Linked DNA regions of Homo sapiens: region 1 is linked to region 2. The links come from fine-mapping of genetic effects on gene expression. Tissue or cell type: whole blood. Region 2 holds a variant in brackets; the other region holds the start of a gene. All regions are shown on one strand. Distances are between the middles of the regions.

The links. PIP is the estimated chance that this variant, and not a neighbour inherited with it, causes the effect.
Region 1: it holds the start of BAIAP2L2, and the variant in region 2 is fine-mapped to the expression of BAIAP2L2 in whole blood (INTERVAL, PIP 0.97).

What each region holds. Positions count from the first base shown.
Region 1 is chr22:38,106,536-38,114,535 of GRCh38, forward strand. It overlaps BAIAP2L2 (BAR/IMD domain containing adaptor protein 2 like 2), which reads right to left and starts at 4,149. Exons shown (of 14, transcript NM_025045.6): 1 at 3,940-4,149; 2 at 2,598-2,673; 3 at 1,720-1,806; 4 at 1,317-1,378. The coding sequence starts at 3,990. It overlaps PLA2G6 (phospholipase A2 group VI), which reads right to left. Exons shown (of 17, transcript NM_003560.4): 15 at 6,952-7,119; 16 at 5,969-6,042; 17 at 4,960-5,770. The coding sequence ends at 5,626. RefSeq lists an enhancer at 7,979-8,000.
Region 2 is chr22:38,142,253-38,150,474 of GRCh38, forward strand. It overlaps PLA2G6 (phospholipase A2 group VI), which reads right to left. Exons shown (of 17, transcript NM_003560.4): 3 at 3,186-3,401; 4 at 853-1,036. Among named protein-coding and RNA genes, the nearest start is that of PLA2G6, 35 kb to the right of the region's middle. RefSeq lists an enhancer at 497-997. The variant G/A (reference allele first, on the strand shown) is at 3,647.

The sequences.
Region 1 (8,000 bases), 36 kb before region 2:
AAAAAAAAAAAAAGATTGTTCCCCATGCCCAACTGACTAGTATTTTATGGTATCCCCCAAAGAGCACCCTGACTTCCAGGGGCTCCCCTTCACACATTGGAGGGAGAACAATTAGTTAAAATTTCCTTCCGAACCTTCCCACTTGCCTCACCACCAGGCCCCACCCCACCTCTCCCACTCAGCCCCTGCGCCCAAGCCCTGGCTCATGCCTGCCTGCTGCCCGCTCATGGCTGTGCGCAGCCCGCTGCCATGCTCCCTTGGAAAGCCCTCTCTTCTCTCCATCTAGCCAAGCTGACTCCCTCAGCTCTTTTCTTTCCCCTGTGTCACTGAAGCCCTGCTTGGCGGAAGGCCCTGGAGCTACGGAGAGGAAGGAAGGCTCTGCGGCGCTCCCAGTCTTGGGAGGGATAGGGGCAGGTGAGTTAACTTCTGGTTATCATAGCTAAGGTATCCAGGGGCAGTAAGTAGGGGCCAGGGCAAACGGTTTATGCTTATTAATTCACGTCATCCTCTCAAGAACCCTGGGAGGCAGTTATTATGATTCTCTCCATTCCTCAGATAGGTAAGTGGAGGCATAGAGTCCAAGGTCACAAAACTAGTCACTGGTGAAGCTGGGCTTTGAACCCACCACGAGCTAAGAACGGACAGAATCATCTGTTGGAGTCCAGGGGGAGGGGTGACTGGACTTGCCCCAGGGAGTCAGAGGAGGCTTTGGGAAGGAGGGGACAGCTGCTTCCCAACTGGACGGCAGGGGGAGGGACCGGTGGCTCTAGGCTGAGAGGACAGCAGGACAGCAGCCCCGCAGCGGGGACACCAGCAGAGGGCCCACTCTTCCGGGGGGCTGGGCTGTGTTGGGGGTGTCAGGAGAAGCTGCTGGATCGACAGAGCCAGGGACCCCTCACTGAGAAGCCTGTGTTCAGTTCTACGGGCAGTGGGGCCGTGGAACGGTTCTGCTCCTGGGAGTGACATGGTCAGGTCCATGTGGCTGCTCCCTGGGAGGCTGCAGTGAGGAGGGCTGCAGTGAAAGGACCTTTCTCTTCCTTGGGCCTCCATTCACTCTGGCATCTCAGGCAATGACTAGCTCTTTGAGACTCAGTTTCTTCCTCTATAAAATGGAGGCAGAAATGCCACCAGCCTCCTAGGGCTGCTAGAGGCTTGAACGACTATTGCAGGGAACCGTGCCCCACAGAGCCGGGTGCTGGGAAGGGCAGCCACGGTCATCCTCCCTGGGAAGGGCATCTGGTAGGCTGGGCCCTCTCCTTGGAACATAGCCCACTTTCCTCGAGTGACCCCTCCAGGCCCTGGGGCCTGATACTCACCACCACCTCCAGGTCAGAGTTCAAGTGCCGCTGGGTGTCAGACATCTGCACCAAGATCTCCCCTGGAGGCATGGATGCAGCTGTGGCTTTGGTGTGTGGCAGCCTGCCCCGCCCACCCACCACCCTCTTCCGCTGAAAGCCAACAGAGGGCCTGCCCGAGACTGGATTTTGGGACCAAAGTCCGGGAACTTCCCATATGGTTCTCTGGGAGCCAGGCCATGTGTGTCCCAGCCTGGGAGCAGCCCGGCAGGGAGTGGTGGCGGGGAGCCTGGGCCCCAGAACAAGAGTCTGGCTCTGGGCCCTGGGCTGAAAGGCCTGTGTCAGGGACTCGGGACATCCTGGAAGGGCAAGGGTGCAAAAGGAGGGCCCAAGAATGGGGTCTGCTGTGGAGGGGGAGCCTCACCCAGAATCTGTGAGGTGGGGCTCTGCAGGGCACGCTCCCCAATCTTCTGGATGGCACTGAAGTAGACCTCGGCCGCCTCGGACAGAGCTGTGGACCAGAAGGGACAGGTCTGGTCCAGCCCTGCCTCTGCCCCACCCTTCTGGAGGCTCTTTTCATCTGGAGGGGACTGTGTCTGTCCTGGGTGGGGTGTGGGCATCTGTGTGTGCCCCTGAGGAGGGTGTGACCAGTTGAGCTGTGAAACTCAGGTGCAGGGGCATAAGGTGAGGGCTGGGGGCAGGGAGGTGGCGTGGAAAGCATCTAAGAAGCAGGGGGATGGGAGGCCCTGAGGTTCAGGGTTGATCAGCACTGGTGGGTAGTGGGGTGCTATTGGCAGGTATGAGCGGCCACAGCGGACGGGTACAAGGGTTTGCACGGGGACCGAGTGAATGTCAAGGCCAGCTGCAGGGTGTGTGGGTGGTGGCCAGTTGAAGTGAGGAAGCCAGCTGCTGTGTGAGCCTGGGTGCAGAGGTGGGACTGAGTATAGGGGTGGGTTCAGCTGGTGGCATCCAGGTGACGCCTAGAAATGTATGCACTGTCAGGGGCTGCCCTGGGGCTGTGTGGGCCTGCAGGGCCTGGTACTGCATCATGGGAGTGTCTGGAGGCACCTGAAGGAGGGGGCAATGAGGGGTGCTGGGTGTGGACTGGGGTGCGTGGGCACAGGAGAGTGGGGGTGCATAAGGCCTCTCTGGCTGCAGAGGTGTGAGGGTGAGGGTGGTGGGTAGGAGGGTGTAGGGTTGAGGATGAACAGGTGTGGGATGCAGAGAATCTGGGAGGGGCCTGGGTGGGTGGGAACAGCAGAGGCCCAGGGCTGGGGCTCGGTGGCCCGGGCAGGCACTCACCGTGGAAGGCACGCAGGTAGTTGTTGCCCAGGTACACCAGGTTCTCCAGGGCGGGGTTAAACTGCTCCATGATGCTCTGGACCCCAGGGTCAGGGGAGGAAAAAGGTGTAGAGATGGGGGAGCGAGAAGGAACCACGGATGGAGTCAAGTCACCAGGCGTCAGGGACAGGGCACCCCCAGCCCAGTGAGAAGCCCCAGACTTTGGGGGGCCCATCTACAAACCTAGGCTCACCCAGAATCCTGGCTCTTGGCTGCAGGGACCTCAGAGCCCATCTTTTGGGGTCCTGTTCTAAGCTGTGGTCCCCTCACAGCCAGCTCCCGCTTACGTCTGCTCTGGCGGGACCGAGGTGCCTCCCGAGATGGTGCACCTGGAAGGTTCTCCTCCTCCCGCTGGGCAGAAGCTGGCCCGCCTGCTGTGGTCCCCACTGGGCACGGCTCAGCCCTGCCCTGTGTCCAGGCCTTGCCGGGCTACACGCCTGGGGCTGCCAACAGTCACCCCCGGGGCAAGGGCAGCTCTCGCCCTCCTCCGAGAACAGCCCCCCATGGGCAAGGCTGTGGCTGGATTAGTGTGGGCCTCCTCGGGCTGGGGCCGGGCAGAGAGCTCCCCGGATGGTGAAGACGGGCCTGGACTTGGGCCTGGACTTGGACTTGGGTCTCGGTTCAAATCCCAGCAGCACCTCTTCCTCCCTCCGTGACCTTGAATGAGCTGTTTAACCTCTTTGGTCTCAGTTTTCTCATCTATCAAGCAGGGTGGTCATTTTCCACCTCACAGGTGGGTGGTGTGAGGCCTCCAGGTGAAAGGGTCCTGCACACAGGAGGCGCTCAATAAATGTCTGTGGCGGCTGCAACAACCCCCCGGGGGTGAAGTAGGAAGTCTGAGGGGCTCAGAAATGAGAGAGACAGAGACAGGGAGAGACAGAGAGAGAGAGAGAGACAGAGAGAGAGAGAGACAGAGAGAGAGAGAGACAGAGAGAGGGAGAGAGAGAGGGAGAGAGAGAGAGAGAGAGAGAGAGAGAGGGAGAGACAGAGAGAGAGAGGGAGGGTCTTTCTTTATTCCCAGGCCGGGCAGCCAGGCCCTTCTCATCCAGACTCAACTCTCCCCACCCTGGGCCTTGGGCTCCCTCCTGCCTTGTCCAGCATCTGGGAGTTGGGGGTTCCCGCTGTATGGCTGAGTGCTCTCGGGGATCCTTACCCCCGTACCCACCCCTGGCCCAGCCTGGCTCCAGGCTTCCCTTTCCAGGACATCTGTAGCCCCGGCTGGCCCTCCGTCCTCCAGAGCGGGCCTGATTTCTGTGCCCTGGGAGGAGGGGCTCAGGCCTGGCTTGGCCACCCATGTGCTCACCTTGTAGATGGCCATGGTGGACCTGTAGAACTGGTCCATCTCGGGGGCCATGGAGGGGCTGTCCCGGGTCTGAGCAGGAGGCTGGGAGCTGGTGGCGATGGCACAGCCGGGAGCAGTGGTAGGTAGTCCCTCAGGTGCCCACGACTCAGCTGGCAGCGAGGAAGCCTCGGAGAGGGACCTGGAGATGGAGGCCTGCCTCAGAGGAGTGGCAGCTTAATTATTCACCAACTCGGGATGTCAGAATGTGATCTGGGGCGTAACCAGATCCGGCAGGGAAGGCATCCTGTGCCGGGCAGGCTCGTGTGACCTGCCCTTCAATTATTCACCCCTTGGAGCTGTGGGCTGATACAAGTGCCCATGTGGATGAGCCCCCTCCTGGGTCACCCCCTCCTCAAGGACCCCAACCCTGGGGGGCCCCGCCCTCCCACCTGCCTATACCAGGCATTGCCCACCTTACTGGGCGGGCGCTGCCCGATGCCCTCCCCCAGGACTCTCTCTGCCAGACCCAGCAGCAGCAGCCCCTGGAGGGGAACGCCGCTTTACTTCTCACTGTCCTCAGGCCTGCGGCTCACAGTGGGGCCACGCCCTCTGAGCTTGGCTCCCACAGCCGCTCTGGCCCGCCCAGCTCCTCCACTTGCCGGAGCAGGAGCAGCACAAACGCTGGAGTTGCCCAGCCCTGGGCAGACCTCGGCCCTGCACACGCGCTGCCTGTCCACGCGGAGTCCCCGGCCTCTCTGGGTGACAAATGGGGCTCTCCCTGGTCCTCCAAGATGAAGTTGAAGATTGTGGCCCTCCTTGGGCCTGCCGGGGGTATGTGGGCCTGGCAGCTGCCTCTGCATACCCTAAGGGCCGGTTTAGGGGAGGCCTAGAGGAAAGAGGAGGTGTCCCTGCCCAGGGATCCTGGAAAACAGAGTGTCCGGGTACAAAGGAAAAGTCCGGTCAAGGCCAAGGGTCAAGGCCGAGGGGAGCCGGGGGTCAGGGGAACAGGTGGATCTCACACCACTGCACACACAACACAGGTGAACTTGAATCCAAATGATTTATTTCAGTTTTGGCTCTTAAGCCACTTCCATTGGGAAGAAGAAACTCCCAGGAGTGACCTTTGAGAGCTGAGGGTTCTCGGGGTGGGGCAGTGTGAGGGGCTGGGCCAGTGTGAGGGGCAAAGTCCAACGGGCATCCCACTCCTGCGGCCTGGGCTTTCCCAGCTGATGGGGTGGGGGACACCCATTTCTTTAGTCCCAGCCCCCAGGGAACGGAGCAGAGGGCAGAGGGAGTGGGCTGCACCCACCAGGAAGCCTGGGAGTGCCCTTGCTGGGGGCTGGGGCAGAGGCAGCCCGGCAGGCCCTCAGGGAGGCTGGGGCTGGGGGCAGGGGTACGGTTGTGCCCGGGTACCCTTAATGTTTGAGCTGATGGGGGAGTCAGTTGTCCTTGACAGTCAGGGAAAGGGGCCAAAGGGGGCTCTAGACTTTCCCAGCCTGGAATGACAGAAAGTGCTGGAAGGCGGGGTTAGTGGGAGACAGGCCTTCAGGACCAGCCTCGGGCAGGCAGCTTGGCATTCTCCCAGGCCTGGTCTATGGACTCAGAGGTGCCTGGGCCCAGATCTGCCCGGGAGGGCAGTGGCTGGGCTTGGCCTGGCAGGGGCTGAATGGACGAGGTCAGCTGGGGCCGGTGAGAGGCTGGGGACCCTCAGGGTGAGAGCAGCAGCTGGATGAGCTTCTGGAACTCCTCGCGGTGCTCATAGATGTAGACCTCGGTCTCCCAGAGGGCGTTGACCAGCACTGTGTCACTGACCTCATCCAGCATGATGTCCGTCCCCAGCTGGGGGTTCAATCTGTTCGGGCCAGGGAGGAGGGGGTCACCCTAGGATGCTCAGGCTGGGCAGGGGACGCCAGCTAGGACCAGGGTGGGCTTGGGGAACAGAGCAGACCCTTGGGGAAGGGAAAGTCCACACTAGGGCTGGGAGGGGAAGGTCGGTGAGTCCGACCACGCCAGGGCACGGGGCCAAGGGCTGGGGCGGCTGAGCCCTCACCTGAAGTACTGGATGCCGACCATCTCGCACCAGGCCCGTGCCCGGTCCACAGCCCGCCCGTCTGGATCCGTGCACTGGTGAGAAGCAGCCTTGGTGAGTGCCGGGCCCACACCCCGCCCGGCCCGCACCCCGCCCGGCCCTGCCCTGCACTCTCGGAGCCCCAGCCTGGGGAGCCCCAGGCTCTTTCGAGTCAGGCTGAGCCACACAGCAGCAGAGCGGCTCGGGCAAAACCCCTTCCTGGGACTGCAGGGACTGTCCCAGCTGTGCAATCAGAGGGGCAGAGGTCTCAGCAGTGCCCTTTCAGGGATGATGAGTGGGGGAAAGGGTAGCGGCTGAGTCGACAGGCCTCCATGTCCCCTCTCCCTGAAGTTTCCCTCCCTCCCTCCTCTCTCTCTCTCTCTCTCTTTCTTTCTTTCTTTTTGAGACAAGGTCTCCTTCTGTTGCTCAGGCTGGAGTGCAGTGGCATGATCACAGCTCACTGCAGCCTCTGCCTCTTGGGCTTAAGCAATCCTCCCACCTCAGCCTCCTGAGTAGCTGGGACCACAGGCACACACCACCATGTCCAGCTAGTTTTTAATTTTTTGGTAGAGACAAAGTCTCATTATATTGCTCAGGCTGGTCTCAAACTGCTGTGCTCAAGTGGTCCGCCTGCCTTGGCCTCCCAAAGTGCTGGGATTACAGGGTGAGCGCCCAGCCCGCTCTGGAGCCTTTGTCCATTCTGGGCTTCTACACTGCGCTATGTTTGCAGAAAGGGATCCGCAGCTAAAAAGCGTTTGAAAACCCCCCTGCTGGTGGTCACTGAGGGTCCCTGCCCCGCACTGAGACTCTGAACTGTGGACTCTCTCTCCCTCCAGCTGGCTAAAGGCGATGGACAGAGCCCTGCTGTCTCCTCCAACACCAAAGGCCCCACAGGATGAGGGGAAGCCATCGACCTGGGCTACAGACCCTGAGGGAAGTGGCCTGGGGGAGGGGCCCACACTCACACAGTCCACCACCATCTTGCCCAGTTCCTTGGCCCCAAAAACAGTCTTGGCCAGCTCCCAGGGGTTGCTGGGACGGAAGACATCCACACAGGTCACAGGCACTTGTGGGGACCTCCCTGTCCCCAGGGAGACAACGATGGAGAGTTTCTTCACCTTGTTGGCCTGACCCTGTTGGGAACAGGACAGGGGCAGTCAGAAGAGACCTTCCACAGGTAGGGGGCACGAAGGGGAGCGTCAAGGGGAGGCCCAAGACTGGGCTCTGGGGCACATGAGAACAGGGCAAGAGGTCTCTGGTGGCAAGAGCATGCCTGGCATGATTTCCAGCCAGCCTCTTGCACGTGACCCCAGAACGGCTGGTGCGGGCATCACATGCCATCTGCTCAGGACAGCATCTGTGTACCAACAGGACCACACATACACCAGCTGCAAGAAGGATCCCGCCCACCCCATCTGATGCTGGCCCAAGTCAAGTCGTGGCCAGGGGAGGAAAGGCAGACGGTGTTCCTTGGTGTTGGTGATTTGCCAGGTATTTGCATCATTACTTCATTTAATCTCCAGCCAGTCTGTGGAGAGGGCACTGATCACCCAGTTTGCAAATGAGGGCTCTCAGCGAAGCTCAGGCCGGGAAGCAGCTGCAGGGGCCACGTGGTAGGGAAGTAGGGGCTAAGGCTTGAACCTGAGCCCTGGGTGCTGCCTTTTTTTTTTTTTTTTTGAGACGGAGTCTCGCTCTGTCTCCCAGTCTGGAGTGCAGTGGCGCGATCTCGGCTCACTGCAAGCTCCGCCTCCTGGGTTCACACCATTCTCCTGCCTCAGCATCCCGAGTAGCTGGGACTACAGGCTCCTGCCACTATGCCCGCCTGGCTAATTTTTTTGTATTTTTAGTAGAGACAGGGTTTCACCGTGTTAGCCAGGATGGTCTCGATCTCCTGACCTCATGATCCACTTGCCTCGGCCTCCCAAAGTGCTGGGATTACAGGCGTGAGCCGCTGCGCCCGGCCGCTGCCTCTCTTATTTGCTTCCGAACAAGCTCTGCTGCCGATTTGCTGGAT
Region 2 (8,222 bases):
CATTCTGATGCCAAGGCAGAGAGAACATGATCTTTAGAAGAATTTTCTAATTCTAGACAATAAAACATAATCCAACATCCTGCCTTTTCTGTTCAATCTAATATATGAAATAGCTATTTAATAGTATCACCCCATCTGCTTGCCCACAATTAAAAAATCACATCTTTTGCCCAGGTAATCAAAAACGTTAACAGGAGGGCCTCTGGCACAAATGCCTACAGGAACTGGAGACAGTTTGGTTTGCTTGGTTTGAATTCCTGTAAAATAGGGTTGTCCAATATTTTGGCCTCCCTGGGCCACATCAGAAGAATTGTCTTGGGTCACACATAAAATACATGAACGCTAACAACAGCTGATCTAAAAAAAAGGTCCATGCATGGATCTCATAATGTTTTAAGAAAGTTTGTGAATTTGTGTTGGGCCACATTCAAAGCCGTCCTGGGCTGCATGCAGCCTGCAGGGCCACAGATTGGACAAGCTTGCAAAAGGTTAAGCCCAGGTCCCGCTGGCCCACGAGCCCCTCCAGGCAGGCATCTGGCTCACAGTTTGTGCTCAGGAAAAGTGGAACTGAACTAACTGACTGGAGCTGGGCCTTTTTTGGGGTTTATTTTGCTGGGTTGGAGGCCGTCCCCAGGTTTATCAAGCAAAGAGACTGAGGACGTGGCTCCTGGAAAAGGGCTGGGAGGGAAGAGCCAGGGAGGGGTCTGCACCCTCCATGAAGGAGCTCAGGCCTCAAGGACCAATGGGGGACAGTGAGAGGCCTGAGAGTGACACCTGAGCCTAGGGGCCCAAAGGGAACCGTGGACACCGGGAGGTATCAGTACCAGTCACCCTGCCCCTCCCCCTGCTCACCTGCAGCACCTGAGAATTGTCACCCTGGACAGCATAATGGAAGACGGTCTCTCCCTTGTAGTCGGTGACATCCATCTGAGTGTGGCAGTACTGCACCAGCTCCACCAGGATCTCCCCATCACCCTTGCGGCAGGCCAGGTGCAGGGGTGTGCAGCCCTCCTCGTTCTCCGCGCAATTGGCACAGCTGCAGGAGAGGGCCAGGGTGAGCAGAGGTGAGCAGGTGTGGTACAAGGTGGCAGGGGGACCTAAGTGCACATGCAGGGAAGTGCACTCGGAAACTCGGACTTTCTGGTTTATTTGAGCTCAAGAGCATTCCCGCCACTCAGCTAGTTGGGCTGATTTGAATGTAATTATATCTGATGTGACCTGTATCAGGTTTCTGTTCAGTTTGCTCACTCGTACAAGAGATGGGCCCCAGGGCCACACCAGCAGGAAGTGGGCAGGGTGGTGGCACAGGAAAGGGTCACAGAACACGGATATCTCACTAGCCTCAGGCAATTCACTTAACCTTTCTGGGCGTCAATATCCTTATCGACACAAGCTGCTGTGCCTGCCCCAGGAAATGGACAGAGTGATGGTGAGATGAGACAGTGCTGTCCAAAAGCACGCCTGGAAACTAAAGTGCAGTGAGGGTTTTTGTTTTGTTTTGTTTTTTTGAGGTGGAGTTTCACTCTTGTTGCCCAGGCTGTAATGCAGTGACACAATCTCGGCTCACTGCAACCTCCGCCTCTGGGTTCAAGCAATTCTCCTGCCTCAGCCTCCCGAGTAGCTGGGATTACAGGCGTGCGCCACCACGCCTTGCTAATTTTTTGTATTTTTAGTAGAGACGGGGTTTCACCACGTTGGCCAGGCTGGTCTCAAACTCCTGACCTCAAGTGATACACCCGCCTCGGCCTCACAAAGTGCTGGGATTACAGGTGTGAGCCACCACGCCCGGCCAGCAGTGAGGTTTTGAGTTCTGGGCCTGGGAGCTTAACTGAGCTATCTAGGATAGAGACTCAGAGGAGGTGTGGCTACCTCTGCACAAGATGGCCAACTGGTGCCCTGTGCAAGGGTGGGGACAGTGCCCTCACCAGGGGCAACAGCTGCTCCATCTGCTGGCTGAATGGATTCACAAAAGGAGGCCTTCAGCTTCCAGAAGAGCAGCCTGGGCAGACACCAAGGATCCAAGCCCCTCTTTCACCCTCTCTGGCTGAGTGACCTGCACAAGTCCTGTTAGCTCTCTCTAGAATGATGATACCTGGGCCGGGCATGGTGGCTCACGCCTGTAATCCCGGCACTTTGGGAGGCCAAGGAGGGCAGATCACCTGAGGTTAGGAGTTCGAGACCAACCTGGCCAACATGGTGAAACCCCGTCTCTACTAAAAAACACAAAAAAATTAGCCGGGCGTGGTGGCGGGCGCCTGTAGTCCCAGCTACGCGGGAGGCTGAGGCAGGAGAATGGCGTGAACCCGGGAGGCGGAGCTTGCAGTGAGCCGAGATCGCGCCACTGCACTCCAGCCTGGGCGACAGAGCGAGACTCCGTCTCAAAAAAAAAAAAAAAAAAAAAAAAAATTACCCGGGCATGATGGCACATTACTGTAATCCCAGCTATTCCGGAGGCTGAGGCAGGAGAATCACCTGAACCCAGGAGGCAGAGGGTGCAGTGAGCCAAGATCGCGCCACTGCACTCCAGCCTGGGTGACAGAATAAGACTCCGTCTCAAAATAAAATAACATAACGTAACATAAAATAAAATAAAATAAAATAAAATAAAATAAAATAAAATAAAGTAAAATAAAATGACGATACCTTGTGGGGGTTGGGAAAATTCAATTTCATGGTGGGTAGAAATCAGCTCCCACAGACCTGGCACCTGGTGAGCACTCCGGACTCTGGAAACATTACATTGTCCTTCTTACATTTTAATCTGGTAGCAACGCAGCACCTTTTTTTTTTTTTTTTTTTTTTTCCTAGAGACAAGGTCTCATTCTGTCACCCAGGCTGAAGTGCAGTGGTGCAATCATAGCTCACTGTAAACTCTAACTCCTGGGCTCAAGCAATCCTCCTGCCTCAGCATCCCAAGTAGCTAGGAGTATAGACACATGCTAATTTTTTAATTTTTTCGTAGAGACAAGGTCTTGCTATTTTGCCAGGCTGGTCTTGAACTCCTAGTCTCAAGTGATCCTCCCTCCTCAGCCTCCCAAAGTGCTGGGACTGCGTTAGTGAGCGACCATGCCAGGCCCTGCTCCTTTTTAAGTCAAACTATGGAGGGGAACCGAGGCCTGCGGCCCCCACTGCCCACACAAGCAGGTACACACACGTTGTCCAAATGGTCTTGTTCCCTTGCTCACCTGATGATACGGCTGTGATGGAAGCACTCGCGGATCCCTAGCTCCACAGCCAGGTGGGCCACTGACCAGCTGGGGTGGTTACGGATGAGGTCGGTCAGGTGCTGCAGGACCTCAGTGTGCAGGACCTGAGGGGAGCTCTCATAGAAGGGTAGCAGCTGGGAAGAATACTGATGGAAATTCACTAGGGCGTCAGCCTCCAACTCCAGCTGGAAGAGTCTGTAGAGCCAGGACAGAGGAGCAAGACCCGAAATGAGTAAGGCGGGACCCTCGGCCCACATCCCTGCTGGAATCAGAAGGTCCCCAGGCTGCGGCCTGGCCAGCTCCAGCCCGACTCCCCTCCCAAGCAAACACACACACACACACACACACACACACACACACACACACACACACACACCCCTATACACATGTAAATGACATAATGGCGTTTAGGTTAGACTTTCTTTGTTTTTTAGAGACAA[G/A]GTCTTGCTCTGTAACCCAGGCTGGGGTGCGGTGGTGTGATCATGACTCACTGCATCTTCGAATTCCTGGGCTGAAGGGATCCTCCTACCTTAGTTCCTGAGTAGCTGGGATTACAGGCATGCACCACCATGCCCAGCTAATTTTTTTTTTTTTTGAGATAGAGTCTCATTTTGTCACCCAGGCTGGAGTGCAGTGTTGTAATCTCACCTCACTGCGACCTTCACCTCCCGGGTTCAAGCAATTCTCCTACCTCAGTCTCCAGAGTAGCTGGGATTAAAGGCGTGTGCTGCCACACCTGGCTAATTTTTTGTGTTTTTAGTAGAGATGGGGTTTGGCCATGTTGCCCAGGCTGGTCTCGAACTCCTGAGCTCAGGCAATCCACCCCCCTCAGCCTCTCAAAGTGCTAGGATTTCAGGCACTAGCCACCGTGAGCCACTGTGCCTGGCCTAATTTTTTTTTATTTTTGTTGACAGGGGGTCTTGCTATGTTGCCCAGGCTGGTCTTGAACTCCTGGCCTCAAGTGTTCCTCCTGCCTCAGCCTCCAAAAGTACTGGGATTACAGGTGTGAGCCACTATGCTTGTCTAGATTTTCCTTTATTTTGAAAAACTTTCCTTTTCTTTGGTAATATCATTTATTATTTTTATATTTTATTTTACCACAGCCCTGCCATATCCACTTTCTAATTTCATTGCCACATGTGAGAGCTCCAGCCTCGAGTACTTGGCCCCTCTTCATAGTAGGAACTAAGTAAGTATTGTTTAACCTAAATGTACAGCAACAAAATATTATATAAATTATGGTATAACTATGTAATAAACTATTATGCAGTCATTAAAATGAGATATTTAAAAAAAGGGAAACTTTTCTTTTTCTTTTCTTTTCTTTTTTTTTTTTTTGAGATGGAGTTTCATTCTTGTTGCCCAGGCTGGAGTACAATGGCACGATCTCGGCTCACTGCAGCCTCCATCTCCCAGGTTCAAGTGATTCTCCTGCCTCAGCCTCCTGAGTAGCTGGGATTACAGGCACCCGCCACCATGCCCGGCTAATTTTTTGTATTTTTAGAAGAGACAGAGTTTTGTCATGTTGGCCAGGCTGATCTTAAACTCCTGGCCTCAGGTGACCTGCCTGCCTGGGCCTCCCAAAGTGCTAGGATTACAGGCATGAGCCACTGCGCCCGGCCAGCTTTGTTCATTTTTAAGTGTTGAGGTTGAGTCCAAGTTTTGCTACTAAGGTGCTGTGTGATCTTGGGAAATCCTTTTCCCTCTCTGAGCCCCATTTGAAACATGAGACTAACTGTACCTGTCCTACCTACCTCCCAGAGGTGCTGTGAGGACAGATGAAAAACCACTATAAAAGCACTTTCAAAACCATAACCATTATATGTCAGTGATGGTTACTTAAAGTTCTGACCAGGGCTTTTAACATACCAAAAGGTTTTGTCTTGCATACCTCTACAAGCGCAGCAGCCAGCCAGAGTCTAGTGAAGGCAGTGCCCAGAGAGTGTTGGCTCAACGGGACCAGCCTGTTGTTCCACAGAGAGTGCGTTGATTAACAGTTAACTACTGGGCATGTGATCTGTGCCAAATGGAGGGGTCAATTAATGAACAATTGCATAAAATGCTCTGCCCTCCTGAAGCCTTTTTTTTTTTTTTTTTTTTGAGACAGAGTCTCACTCTGTTACCCAGGCTGGAGTGCAGTGGCGCGATCTCAGCTCACTGCAACCTCTGCCCCCTGGGTTCAAGTGATTCTCCTGCAATTCTCCTGCTTCAGCCTCCCTAGTAGCTGGGATTACAGGCGCTTGCTACCACGCCCAGCTAATTTTTGTATTTTTAGTAGGCACAGGGTTTCGCCATGTTGGCCAGGCTGGTCTCGAACTCCTCACCTCAAGTGATCCACCCATCTTGGTCTCCCAAAGTGCTGGGATTACAGGCGTGAGCCACTGTGCTTGGCCCGAGCCTATGTTATTATGGAGGAGATCAACAAAATGACTAAAGTAAAAACATAGAATAAGGAAGTACATTAAATAAACTATAACGTAATCAGTGTTACAGAAACAACAAAAACCACAACAAAGATAGGGAAGGAGGAGGCGGAAGGAAGCCATTCCTCATTGCCCTTGGCTGGGTTTTTCCTTCATCTCACCAGCCTCTCAACATCAGGGTACTCCACATCAAGTGTTGCCGATATGTCAGAGAATGACAACTGAAAACTCATCACTGGAATTAGCATCACGGAGGCATGCACGACCTTGACAACATTACTTTTAGTGGAATGGAGGGAACCAAGGCCTGATTAAAGTGGGTTTAAGGACACAATGTGAGAATCTGAAGATTGCAAAGATAGATATTTTTGAGGAGTTTTGCTGTGGTGAGGAGCAAATAAAGGAAAGGATAGCGAATGGGGAAAGTGTAATCAGGCATTTGAATGCTGACGGGAACGATGATTCTCTCTCAGAACTTCCACTTTCCATTAACAGCAGACTAGGGAATGTGAAACAGACCACCTACTGAGGACAGCCAGAAATGCTGGACAAATTATTAAAAAACATCTGCTGGCAGGCACTGGATACCTCAAAAGACACTGATGACTCACCAGGCTGGAAGGAATGATGGAAACCCAGGAATTGCAGTGTTCAGGTGGCTGTTACTGGAGAGGATGGGCAGACGAGCAGCACCAGTAACAGCCTCATGGGGCTCAGGACACAGGGACTGGAGCCCAGGCGTCTGCCAAGAGGAGAGCCCTGATGAACATCTCTTACTTTGGGTTAGGGTCCTAAAGAACTACGTAGCCTAGGAATAAGGGTGAGCCATACACAGACACGCTCTCACAGAGACCACAGTTCAGCCTCAAGTGATTTCAGTTCCAGAAACTAGACTGAGGTTATCCTAGTTGCAATGGGAGAAGCAAAAATAAATTCATTCTTTGTAAGGAAACATCAAACTAGGCTCTAGATTATTTCTTTTTTTTTTTTTTTTTTTTTTTTTGAGACGGAGTCTCGCTCTGTCACCCAGGCTGGAGTGCAGTGGCGTGATCTCGGCTCACTGCAACCTCTGCCTCCTGGTTCAAGTGATTCTCCTGCCTCAGCCTCCCGAGTAGCAGGGATTACAGGAACGTGCCACCATGCTCAGCTAATTTTTTGTATTTTTAGTAGAGATGGGGTTTCACCATGTTAGCCAGGATGGTCTTGATCTCCTGATCTCGTGATCCACCTGCCTCAGCCTCCCAAAGTGCTGGGATTACAGGCATGAGCCACTGCGCCCGGCCATTCCAGATTATTTCTACGAGCATACTTGCAAATACAATGACCAACACATAATCAAAACTCACCAGGCATATGTGGAGATAAGACATGAAAGAAAACCAACAGAAACAATATACAAAAGAAACATATCTGTGAGGGGACTGTAAATATTTAAGTTATCCAAAATAGACTTTAAAGTAACTGTGATAACATTCGAGAGGTTAAAAAAGGAAATTTAGAATTTTGGTGAAGAGTTTTGAATGATCAAAAAAGCATCAAATGGAAATTACAAAATTAAAAAATATAATCAGGAAAGAGTAAACAGAATAAAGCATGGAGAGACAGAAGAATACAAAATATAGTAGAGTACATAAGAGACACAGACTATCTAATAAAAGATCTAGCATACATACATAAGTGGAGGATCAGAGGCAGAGTAGAAAAAGAATCAAATGGAAGCTACATTTGAAAAGTTAATGTCTGCAAACTTTCCAAAACTGATTTTTAAAAAACATTATAGGTCAGGCACAGTGGCTCATACCTGTAATCCCACCACTTTGGGAGGCCAAGGTGGGTGGATCACCTGAGGTCAGGAATTCCAGACTAGCCATGGCGAAACCCCATGTCTACTAAAAATATAAAAATTAGCCGGGCGTGGCGGTGGGTGCCTATAATCCCAGCTACTTGGGAGGCTAAGGCAGGGGAATTGCTTGAACCAGCGGGGCGGAGGTTGCAGTGAGCCGAGATCACGCTACTTCACTCCAGCTTAGGCAAAAGAGTGAAACTCCATCTCTGATCACGCTACTTCACTCCAGCTTAGGCAAAAGAGTGAAACTCCATCTCCAAATAAATAAATAAAATTATTCTGCTGATTTAACATACCCTATAAGCCCTCCCTGACCCCACCACCAAAAAAAAAAAAAAAAACACATAGAAAAAAACAAAAAACAAGAAAGCCCCAGAAATCCACGCTTAGCACCTTGTAGGGGTTTTAAAACAGGGCCCCCTAAAATCACTGATATTCCTTGCACTGAGCAGTGGGAATTTGTATCTCTTTACCCTTTAATCTGGCGATGTAACTGCGTTACCAACAGAATATGGCAAAAGTGATGCCGTCCCAGCTTCCAGACCAATGCCTTAAGAGACTGGAAGTTTCTATTTCTCTTCTCTTGGGACCCAGCCATCATGCCTCAAGGAGGCTGAAGCAAGCCATGGTGACGACTCTTGGTCCTGGGCCCTGAGCCCTGAATGAACTACCAGCCAACAGCCAGCACCAACTTGCCAGTTGCGAGTTACCTTATATGGTGCCATATAAAGTAAAGCTGAGGCTTTC